2 separate regions of the Homo sapiens genome follow, and region 2 is linked to region 1. The links come from fine-mapping of genetic effects on gene expression. A gene starts in region 1. The other region holds a variant in brackets. All regions are shown on one strand. Distances are between the middles of the regions. Region 1 holds the start of KLHDC7A (kelch domain containing 7A). Region 2 has its middle 26 kb from the start of KLHDC7A.

Evidence for each region. PIP is the estimated chance that this variant, and not a neighbour inherited with it, causes the effect. A credible set is the group of variants that fine-mapping cannot tell apart.
Region 2: its variant is the best candidate, but not a certain one, in a credible set for the expression of KLHDC7A in whole blood (TOPMed, PIP 0.52).

Annotation. Positions count from the first base shown.
Region 1 is chr1:18,478,574-18,483,946 of GRCh38, forward strand. It overlaps KLHDC7A (kelch domain containing 7A), which reads left to right and starts at 2,357. Exons shown (of 1, transcript NM_152375.3): 1 at 2,357-5,373. The coding sequence starts at 2,409. The coding sequence ends at 4,742. RefSeq lists enhancers at 1,435-2,307, 2,308-3,179.
Region 2 is chr1:18,451,914-18,457,286 of GRCh38, forward strand. No RefSeq gene overlaps it. Among named protein-coding and RNA genes, the nearest start is that of KLHDC7A, 26 kb to the right of the region's middle. The variant G/A (reference allele first, on the strand shown) is at 3,079.

The DNA of each region.
Region 1 (5,373 bases):
GGGAGGGAAGGGAAGGGAGGGAGGGAGGGAGGAAAGAAGGGAGGGAGGAAAGAAGGGAGGGAGGGAGGAAGGAAGGAAGGAAGGAAGGAAGGAAGGAAGGCAGGCAGGCAGGCAGGCAGGCAGGCAGGCAGGCAGGCAGGCAGGCAGGCAAGCTGCATCTCTAACAAGCACCCCTTGTGATCCTTGTGCACATTGCATTGATAGGCACTCTTTTGACCAGGATGGAAAGAAAGAGAATTCAGGGGACCCCTCTTGACAGCTACCAGTGGGACAGGCTGAGGACACCTGACTTTCTAAGAGGTCACACCTGCTGGATGAAGTCAGGTCTGTAAAACTCTGGACTCTGCAAACAAGGTTTTGAGTCCCCATTTACAAGCCAGTTGACATAATCTTGGAGGTCCAGTTACCGCTGCTGTCAAATGGGGATAACAATCGTGTCTCTCCCCAAAGGGGCTGTGAGCATGAGACGAGATGAGATGAGCTTCATCCCGAGTGTTCACCCCAATCCACTCAGTGTAAAGACAATCCCTGCTGGCTATTGTCCCAAATGGTGCAGGGCCCCACATAGGCTTAGGGTCCACAGCTGAGCCAGCTACAGCCTCTGTCCTCAAGGACTTAGAATGCAGCAGACCAGATCTTGCACACAATGCACTTTACGATGCAGCAGCTGTGGCCAAGCCTAAAAGAGGAGCATCAGAGAACACGAGACCCAAAGGAAGAAAAGGTGATCTTGGACGGATGAAGGCACCAGGGAAGAAGGCCCAGACACAGCCTTTTACCCAACTCTGATGGGCCAGAGGGATGTCCACCAGCCTTCCCTGCCAAGAAGTCACCCTGAGCCCGGTTTGCTAGGCAGTGATCAGGAGATGCATCTGGAAGAGTAAACCGAAGCTGGTACACAGAGAGTTGTGAACGTCGGCATAGGGAGTCAGGATTGTCTCCTAGAGTCAAAGCCTTCAGAGCCAAATTCCTCCCATGCGTGTGCTTCCTGTGGCCCACAGTGTTTTTCAGTTTCATTTTTGAATCAGATGCCAACATTTTAAAATTGAGAGTGATTATGTCACTACTGGGATTCTAAGCTTTTTGCGACAGTGGGAGGATGAGGCAATGCTGGGCCTGATACCATCGGCTGGGGTGGGGCGGACAGACGTCCTTACTTGTTCACTTTACCTACCCAGCCTCCATATGCAGCAAGAGTTTGAGACCCCTGCACAGGACTTTGGGGACTCTTTGAGGACCTTGGTCAGGAGAAGGGTAGAATTAGTTCTGTGCTTTGGAAGGTCCTCTGATGACAATTGATACTAGCGATGATGGTGCCGATGATCAGAAAGAGGAAAAGGAGGAAGAAGCAGAGAATAGTTCATATTTACTAAGCTTTCATGATGGGGGCTCTGCCCCAGTGTTTATTCCTAGTAGCCCATTTAGTTCTCCCCACAAGCTGATGAGGTGCGTATGCTGTCATCCTCCTTTTTCAGACAAAGCACAGAGCGGTGAGGTCTCTTGCCTAAGGTCATATAGTTGGTAAGTAGCAGAGCCAGGTAGTCTGGGTCCAGGACCCACAGCACTGGTGATGGGGGAGGGGAAATGGTGAGGGGGGGTCTGGGAGACGTGAGTCTTCCCTCAATCTTTCACCGTAGGAGATTGTCTGGTTTTAAAAGAGAAGATGTGTCCACATCTAACCCCGATCTGAGCACTAATGCAATGTCTTTCTCCACTGTTCTCAGAAAGGCTGGTTTTTCTTAATAAACTTGTCAGGCAGGGAAGGAGGGCAGAGGCACTCAAGGGCCGGCTCAGGTGGCTTGGCTGCATGCCCTGGCTCCAGACTCCACTGCCATGTTCCCGTTCCCTGCTTGGCCAGCATAAAGTTGACCCCACTGTGAGGACCAGCAGACCTCACAAGAATGACCCCATCCACGCCTACTGGGGCTCCACCTGCCCATGACTCACCACACCCAAGCCTCTGAGCCCAGTGGACTTGCAAAAGAGAAAATAAAGCACACACATAAAGAATAACCAACCCCATGCATTTCCTGGCATCGGGTGACTGTTTGGTTAAGAGCTTCCTCCTCTTTTGTATGCCCACTGGATACTCCTAACATCCCCTAGCTGCTGACCACAGAGCTGGCTTAGGTGGCTGATCACAAGCTCAGCCCCTGGGCGGGCCCCCCACCCCAGCCACCAGGGAAGCATGGAAGGAGGCCAGCCGCTGGGATCTGCCAGCTCTGGGCCCCAGCGGCCACCCTCTGCAGCTCAAAGTCACCTTTGCTCCTCTCCTCTCCTCGGCTGGCCAGCCAGAACCAGCCCAGAACTCCCTCCCCTCCGCTCAGCAGGACCCAGGAACTGGTCCCTACTGGGCAATTATTAATCAGATTCTTGACATTCCTCAGCCCCAGGTTGGCTGGAGAAGCATGTTCCCCAGAGGAGCAGAGGCCCAGGACTGGCATTTGGATATGCAGCTGACCGGCAAGGTGGTGCTGTCAGCCGCTGCCCTGCTCCTGGTGACTGTGGCCTACAGGCTGTACAAGTCGAGGCCTGCCCCAGCCCAGCGGTGGGGTGGGAATGGCCAGGCAGAAGCCAAGGAGGAAGCAGAGGGCTCAGGGCAGCCTGCTGTACAGGAGGCTTCTCCTGGGGTGCTCCTGAGGGGGCCAAGACGTCGGAGGAGCAGCAAGCGGGCTGAAGCACCACAGGGCTGCAGCTGTGAGAATCCAAGAGGCCCCTATGTCCTGGTCACGGGGGCCACTTCCACAGACAGGAAGCCCCAGAGAAAAGGCTCAGGTGAGGAGCGGGGCGGGCAGGGCTCGGACTCTGAGCAGGTGCCTCCTTGCTGCCCCAGCCAGGAAACCAGAACAGCTGTTGGCAGTAACCCTGACCCTCCCCATTTCCCCCGCTTGGGCAGCGAACCGAAGAGCTCCCCAGCTGGACTCATTGCAGCAGCCGACGGCAGCTGTGCCGGTGGTGAGCCTTCTCCATGGCAGGACAGTAAACCCCGTGAGCATCCAGGACTGGGGCAACTAGAACCTCCCCACTGTCACTACGTGGCTCCCTTGCAAGGCAGCAGTGACATGAACCAGAGCTGGGTCTTCACCCGTGTGATAGGGGTCAGCAGAGAAGAGGCTGGGGCTCTCGAGGCTGCCTCCGATGTTGACCTGACCCTGCATCAGCAGGAGGGCGCCCCCAACTCCTCCTATACCTTCTCATCCATAGCCCGCGTCCGAATGGAGGAGCATTTCATACAGAAGGCGGAGGGGGTTGAGCCCCGGCTCAAGGGCAAGGTGTACGACTACTATGTGGAATCTACCTCTCAGGCCATCTTCCAGGGCAGGCTGGCTCCCAGGACAGCAGCCCTGACTGAGGTTCCATCCCCTAGGCCACCGCCAGGGTCCCTGGGAACAGGGGCTGCCTCGGGAGGCCAAGCCGGTGACACAAAGGGTGCAGCCGAAAGAGCCGCCTCCCCGCAGACAGGGCCGTGGCCCTCCACCCGAGGCTTCAGCCGGAAGGAGAGCCTTCTGCAGATAGCGGAGAACCCAGAGCTGCAGCTGCAGCCAGATGGCTTCCGGCTCCCCGCTCCACCCTGCCCAGACCCGGGCGCCCTGCCTGGCTTAGGCAGAAGCAGCCGGGAGCCCCATGTGCAGCCGGTGGCCGGGACCAATTTCTTCCATATCCCGCTCACCCCTGCTTCAGCCCCACAGGTCCGCCTGGATCTGGGCAATTGCTATGAGGTGCTGACCTTGGCCAAGAGGCAGAACCTGGAGGCCCTGAAAGAGGCGGCCTACAAGGTGATGAGCGAAAACTACCTGCAGGTGCTGCGCAGCCCGGACATCTACGGGTGCCTGAGCGGGGCAGAGCGCGAGCTGATCCTGCAGCGCCGGCTCCGGGGCCGCCAGTACCTGGTGGTGGCTGACGTGTGCCCCAAGGAAGACTCCGGCGGCCTCTGTTGCTATGACGATGAGCAGGATGTCTGGCGCCCGCTGGCTCGCATGCCCCCCGAGGCCGTGTCCCGGGGCTGTGCCATCTGCAGTCTCTTCAATTATCTCTTCGTGGTGTCCGGCTGCCAGGGGCCCGGGCACCAGCCCTCCAGCCGCGTCTTCTGCTACAACCCGCTCACGGGGATCTGGAGCGAGGTGTGCCCGCTGAACCAGGCCCGGCCGCACTGCCGGCTGGTGGCCCTGGACGGGCACCTGTATGCCATCGGCGGAGAGTGTCTGAACTCGGTGGAGCGTTACGACCCCCGCCTGGACCGCTGGGACTTTGCCCCGCCGCTCCCCAGTGACACGTTCGCCCTGGCGCACACGGCCACGGTGCGTGCCAAGGAAATCTTCGTCACCGGCGGCTCGCTGCGCTTCCTGCTGTTCCGCTTCTCTGCGCAGGAGCAGCGCTGGTGGGCCGGCCCCACCGGGGGCAGCAAGGACCGCACGGCCGAGATGGTGGCGGTCAACGGCTTTCTCTACCGCTTTGACCTCAACCGCAGCCTGGGCATCGCCGTGTACCGCTGCAGCGCCAGCACCCGGCTCTGGTACGAGTGCGCCACGTACCGGACGCCTTACCCGGATGCCTTCCAGTGCGCCGTGGTGGACAACCTCATCTACTGCGTGGGACGCCGGAGCACCCTCTGCTTCCTAGCAGACTCTGTCTCACCCAGGTTTGTGCCCAAGGAGCTGCGGAGTTTCCCGGCCCCGCAGGGCACCCTCCTGCCCACCGTCCTGACCTTGCCCACCCCCGATTTGCCTCAGACCAGGGTCTAGCAGTCCCTCAACTGAGCTCCTCATGCAAAGCTGGGGGCCACCGGGCTCCACTGCCAGCCGTCCCTCTGGGGGCCATTTCTAGGCAAACAGGCAACCCAGGAATGTGGCCATCAAGAGGTGAATTCCGGTCCTTTCTCCTCCCCTAGCTGGGGAGAGAGGGATCTTAGATGAGTCTTACCCTTCATGGGCTGCAGAGGCCCCACTGCAGAAAAGAGGACCAGGAGCTGGTGTTCCAAGGCAGAAGGCATTCATGTCTTCAGGGATGACCGCCCTTGCTTCAACTCTGAATTCTTGGGGGGATACACCGGGACCCCACCAAAGCTTAGGGGGCATAGTCTTTTTGCAATCACAATTCTAGGAGCCAGTTGACCCCAGCAGCCCCTCGCTAGTTGCTCTGGAGAGGGGTTGGCTCTCTGAGCCATCAGTGCCCCTTCCTAAACATCAGCCACTGGGCCCCACCTCCACAGTTCCCAGAAGCACCGGGACACACAGGTGGGAAAGATGGAGGCAGGTGACTTGGGCAGGGCCAGGAAGGAGCCGAGGGAGCCCCAGGGGCCCTGGCCAGAGGGAGTGGTGGTTTGAAAAGTAGAACAGCTGAAGCTGGGGCCAGCCTAGGAGACTCTTGCTTGCG
Region 2 (5,373 bases), 27 kb before region 1:
CAGGGACATGGATGAAGCTGGAAGCCATCATTCTCAGCAAACAAACACAGGAACAGAAAACCGAACACCACATGTTCTCGCTCATACGTGGGAGTGGAACAATGAGAACACATTGACACAGGGAGGGGAACATCACACACTGGGACCTGTCGGGGGGTGGGGGCAAGGGGAGGGATAGCATTAGGACAAATACCTAATGCATTTGGGGCTTAAAACCTAGATGATGGGTTGATAGGTGCAGCAAACCACCATGGCACATGTACACCTATGTAACAAACCTGCACATTCTGCACATGTATTCCGGAATTTAAAGTAATTTTTTTTAAAAAGACAAAACAAAGAGAACTTGAGAATGTACAGCCCTTGGCCTTTTCAGAAGGCTCCATCTTAGAGCAAAAGGAACTTTCCAGGTCAGTGAAGTTTTCTCCACATTACCTGCCCTTTCTACATTGGCATGTGACTTACACTTCTCTGAGCCACTGAGGGAGGGGACAAGGAAAAAGCATAAGCCTCTGCCATAGACCAGGCCCTGTGCTTGGAATGTGTATCGATCAGGAATAGCCTAGGGACAGATCAACCCAGAAATCTCAGGGACTCAAGGCAATAAAGTTTTATTTCTCTCTGATGTTATATGTCTGCTGCAGGTTGGCAGGTGGCTCTGTCCCAGAGTCACTCAGGGTCCCAGATGGGTAGAAGGACCCTGAGTGATGCTGTTATCCCAACTTCTAGAGTCTTCATAGACAGGTGAGGAAGAGTGTGAATAACTCACACATGCTTTTAAATGTCTTGGTCTGGAAGTGGCATATATTATAGCTGCTTGCATACCATTGGCTAGAACTAGTCACATGACCCCCACATGACTGCAAAGGGGTCTGGGAAATGTAGTCATCTGTATGCACAGGAAGGAGAGAAGAATCAGATCTGCTGAGCATAATTCTTCTTTATTACAGTGCCTTTTAATCTGCAAATATTGCCTATTCTCATGCTTAACTCACAGCAATATTCAGCAGCAGATATTGTGCTTATTTAACAGATTTGGGGGCATCTCCTATGATCCAAATGCAGGAGCTTTAGTGTGGGGATTTTCAAGGGCTACTTTTGGCAGCCCAAGATCTTTTATAAATTCATTCCTGGTTCTCACCTCTATTCTTGGCCAGTGGTTCTCAGTCTGGGTGCTATGACACGCCAGGAGGGTTCCCCAAAGATAGGATACCAAAAAATGCAAATTATTTGCTTTGTTAAAAAACAAACAAACAAACAAACAAAAAACAAAGCACAGACATTAGAGTGAGTTCAAGGTTAGCCCTAGAATAGCAACAGTCTGCGAGGGTACAAATGGAAAGGGTGTAAGAACAGGTACAAAGACACACGGAAATATTTTTCCCTCAGGAATTTGCATCTCATCAGACAAAAGGCTTAGGAGCCACTGCTCTTGGCTGTGGAATTTTCCAGTCAAATGCCCCTTACAAAGCAGCAGAATTTGTATGTGACCATTTGAGGGGAGACAGCAACAGTCATTACATTGGATAGACCTGTGGTCTTCCTGCCACACCCATGAGGGAGCAGTGTGGGGCAGAGAGGGGAGCATGACCCGAGATTCAGGCTGATCTCAATCAGAACCGTGGCTCTGCTCAGCACCAATCCTGTGACCTGGCTCACTGACCTCCTGAGGCTTGGCTTCCCCCTCCTGTGAAATGAGGAGAACAGTGTCCATCTCCCAGATTGTCGAGGGAACTGAACAGGAAAGTGCGCAAGAATCTTCAAGCAGGTGCTTGGCTCTCTTTTTTACCCTCCCTTCCCCTGACAGATGGACATTTGGTGTGAGGGCCAGATGTGTTGGCATTTGCCACTACAAACCCAGAGGGAGCTGCCACATCCACCTTCACCTGCCAGAAGGTGTTTCAAATGCTGTACTGTGGGGGGAAAAGGAAATGAGTTAAATCCTCAAGTACAGGAGCTTGGTTAAATAAACTCATTCAGATTAATGAAGATTGTGTTGCCAAATGTTTACAAGAAACTTGAAGTAGCAAAGGAAATGTTTATGATACAATTTGAGAAGGAAAAAATAGGACACAATATGGTGTATACAAAATGGTATCAACTATGCAAAAACAGAGTTCCTGGCCTAGGAAGAAGTCTGGAAAGATATACTCCATAATACAGTATGGGTCTACCAATGAGCATTATCCTTTTCTTTACATATTGGATTTAATTTTATGTTTATTTTTGTTGCAATTTCAATTTTTTGTATTTTAATCTCATTTAAAATATGATAAATTATTATGAGAAAGATCTCTTTTTAAAATAATGTGAATATGGAATTCCCAAAGGTACCAGTTGCACCAGTATGTCAGAGATCTGGCTTGTTAGGTGTTGCGTGTGATTGGGGCAAGCAGGGTGTTGCATAGAATGAGAAGCAGCAAGCACTTTGGGGAGAGCAGAGCTGAACTCGAATCCTGTCCTACTCCTTTCTAGCTCTGTGACCTTGTGCAAGTTGCTTCAATTCTGAGCGCCAGGATGCTCTCAGGTCAAATGAGGATGAAAATTCTCACCTCATGGAGAACTCATATAAAGTCCCTAGCAAAAATCTTTGACACAATGTAGAAGCCTATAGCAGGGGCCCAGTAGATTCTAATTCTTTTTCTTCTCTACATCCAGTGGGCATTCTGGGGTGGGTTCCTGACCACCACCTAGGTTGGGACACTGGGAACTGCTGCCAAAGCCTCTTGCCCAAGATCAATGGGCAAGAACTGACTCACAAACTCAGAATCCCTCATCCGTCTCTACTTCCCCCCAACCAAGGCTGGTCCATGCATCCTGAGTGATTCCCCCACGACTCCGGATCTCCTGAAACTTGTCTGCAACTCTCTGTGCAAGTCACGAAGTATTGCTGTCGACAGATTCCTCTTCAAAGGGACCTTGAGTTAAAGAGCAGCTTCTTCCTTTACTGAAAGCCTTTGAAGTCCAGGCCCTGGTAAGCAGAGTGATTAGGCAAGATGGCCTTGACAGGTTCCTTCCAACCCAAGGGTCTGAGATTCTCTTCCCGCTCCTTCATCATATGCTCTGAGAGGTAAAGTG[G/A]GCTGAGCTGGGCTGGTGGAAGCTGTTGCCATAGCCTGGGATGTCCACCTCCCTCCTGTGTACCCTCCAAGCACACAAGCAACTCCTCTTCTAGAAGCCCTCCTAACCTCACCACTCTCCTTCCAGATTGGCTGGAGCCCTCTCCCCTAATCCTATTCTGTATCCTTCTCAGTAGTGTAACTGCCTTGCAAATGACTGTCACCACTCTGGATGCTGGGCTTCTTGAGGGCACAGACTGAGTCTTGTTCATCTTCATATTCCACCCAAGGCAGGATCTGATGCAAGGCACTTGCTCAAGAGATGTTTGCTGAATTAATTAATCCCACTTGCCCCCAGAAATAAAGTCTCACCAATGAGGTTAAGGCTTAGTTGTGACCCCCTTAGAAGGAACTAGCATGTATGAGTGTATAATCTCTGTACTAGGCATCCTGCTAAACCTTTTTATTACCCCTTTTTAATTCCCAAAAGTACTCTAGGAGGTAGATGTTATTGTCCCCATTTTACAAATGAAGAAACTGAGGCCAAGAAAACTTAATTGACTTACCAAACAAGTGACCGAGTGGCAACTCAATCCCTGGCTGTGGTCCAAAGATTGGGCTTTTGTTTTATATTTATTTCTTTATTTTGAAACAGAGTCTGGCTCTGCCACCCAGGCTGGACTGCAGTGTGCCGTCATAGCTCACTGCAGCCTCGACCTCCTGGTCTCAAGTGATCCTTTCCCCTCAGTCTCCTGAGTAGCTGGGACTACAGGTGCACAACACCAAGCCCAGCTGAATTTTGTTTTGGGTAAAGATGGGGTCTCATTATGTTGCCCAGGCTGGTCTCAAACTCCTGGGTTCAAGCAATCCTCCCACCTCGGCCTCCCAAAGTGCTGGGAGCCACATTACAGGTGTGAGCCACCATGCCCAGTCAGATTGGCCTTTTCCACACTTTCTCTGTCACCTCCCTGTCAGAAGGTTAGAAGCTGTCTCCAAAAATTTCTTAATTATTTCCCTTTGAAGACCTGCTATGGTCTAAAAATATATCTATTTTTTAACAACTTTATTGAGGCATAATTAGCATACCATAAAATTTGTCTAAGTGTACAATTCAATGACTTTTTAGTAAATTTTGCAGAGGTTTAACAATCACTGAAATCTAATTTTAGAATATTTCCATCAACCTAAAAAGAAACCTTGTGCCTATTAGCAGTCACTGTCTGTTCCCACTCCCAGCCCCAGGCAAACACTAATCTACTTTCTGCTCAATAGATTTGTCTTTTTTTTGACTTTTCATGTGAAAATGGAAATAGACAGCATAGACTCTTTTGTATCTGGGTGTTTTTTTTTTTCCACTTAAATATTGAACACTTGGGTTGCTGCCACTTTGGGGCTCTTATAATATTGATGCTGCTGTGAATGGTCACATACAAGTCTTTGAGTAAGCTTAAGTTTTCATTTCTTTTTTTTTTTTTTTTTTTTTTTTGAGATGGAGTTTTGCTCTTTTTGCCCAGGCTGGAGTGCAGTGGCGTGATCTCAGCTCACCGCAACCTCCACCTCCCGGGTTAAAGCAGTTCTGCTGCCTCAGCCTCCCAAGTAGCTGGGATTACAGGCACCCACCCACACCCAGCTAAGTTTGTATTTTTTTAGTAGAGACGGGGTTTCTCCATGTTGGTCAGGCTGGTCTCGAACTCCTGATCTCAGGTGATCTGCCCACTTCAGCCTCCCAAAGTGCTAGGAATACAGGCGTGAACCACCGCGCCCAGCCAAGTTTTCATTTCTTATGGACGGAACCGGAAAATTACAATTGCTATATCATATAAAGTTATGCTTAACTTTTAAGAAGCTGACAGACTAGTTCCAAAGTGGCTGCACCATGGTCCATTCCCACCAGCAATGTGTGAGGGTTCCGATTCCTCCACGTCCTCACCAACACTTGGGATAGTCTTTTTTTTTTTTTTAATTATAGCCATTCTAATGGGTGTAAAGAGTATTTCGTTGTGGTCTTAATTTGACCTTCTGTAATGACTAATGATGTTGAGCGTCTTTTCATGTGTTTATTGGCCATTTGAATATCTTCTATGGGGAAATATCTACTATAATTTTTTGCCAATTTTTGTTTTTTGAGGCAGGGTCCCACTCTGTTGCTAAGGCTGGAGGGCAGTGGCGTGATTAGAGGTCACTGCAGCCTCGACCTCCCAGACTGAAGTGATCCTCCCACCTTGGCCTCCCAAGTAGCTGGGACTATGGGTGTAAACCACTATGCCTGGCTAATTGTCGTATTTTTTGTAGATCAGGGTCTGTCCATGTTGCCCAT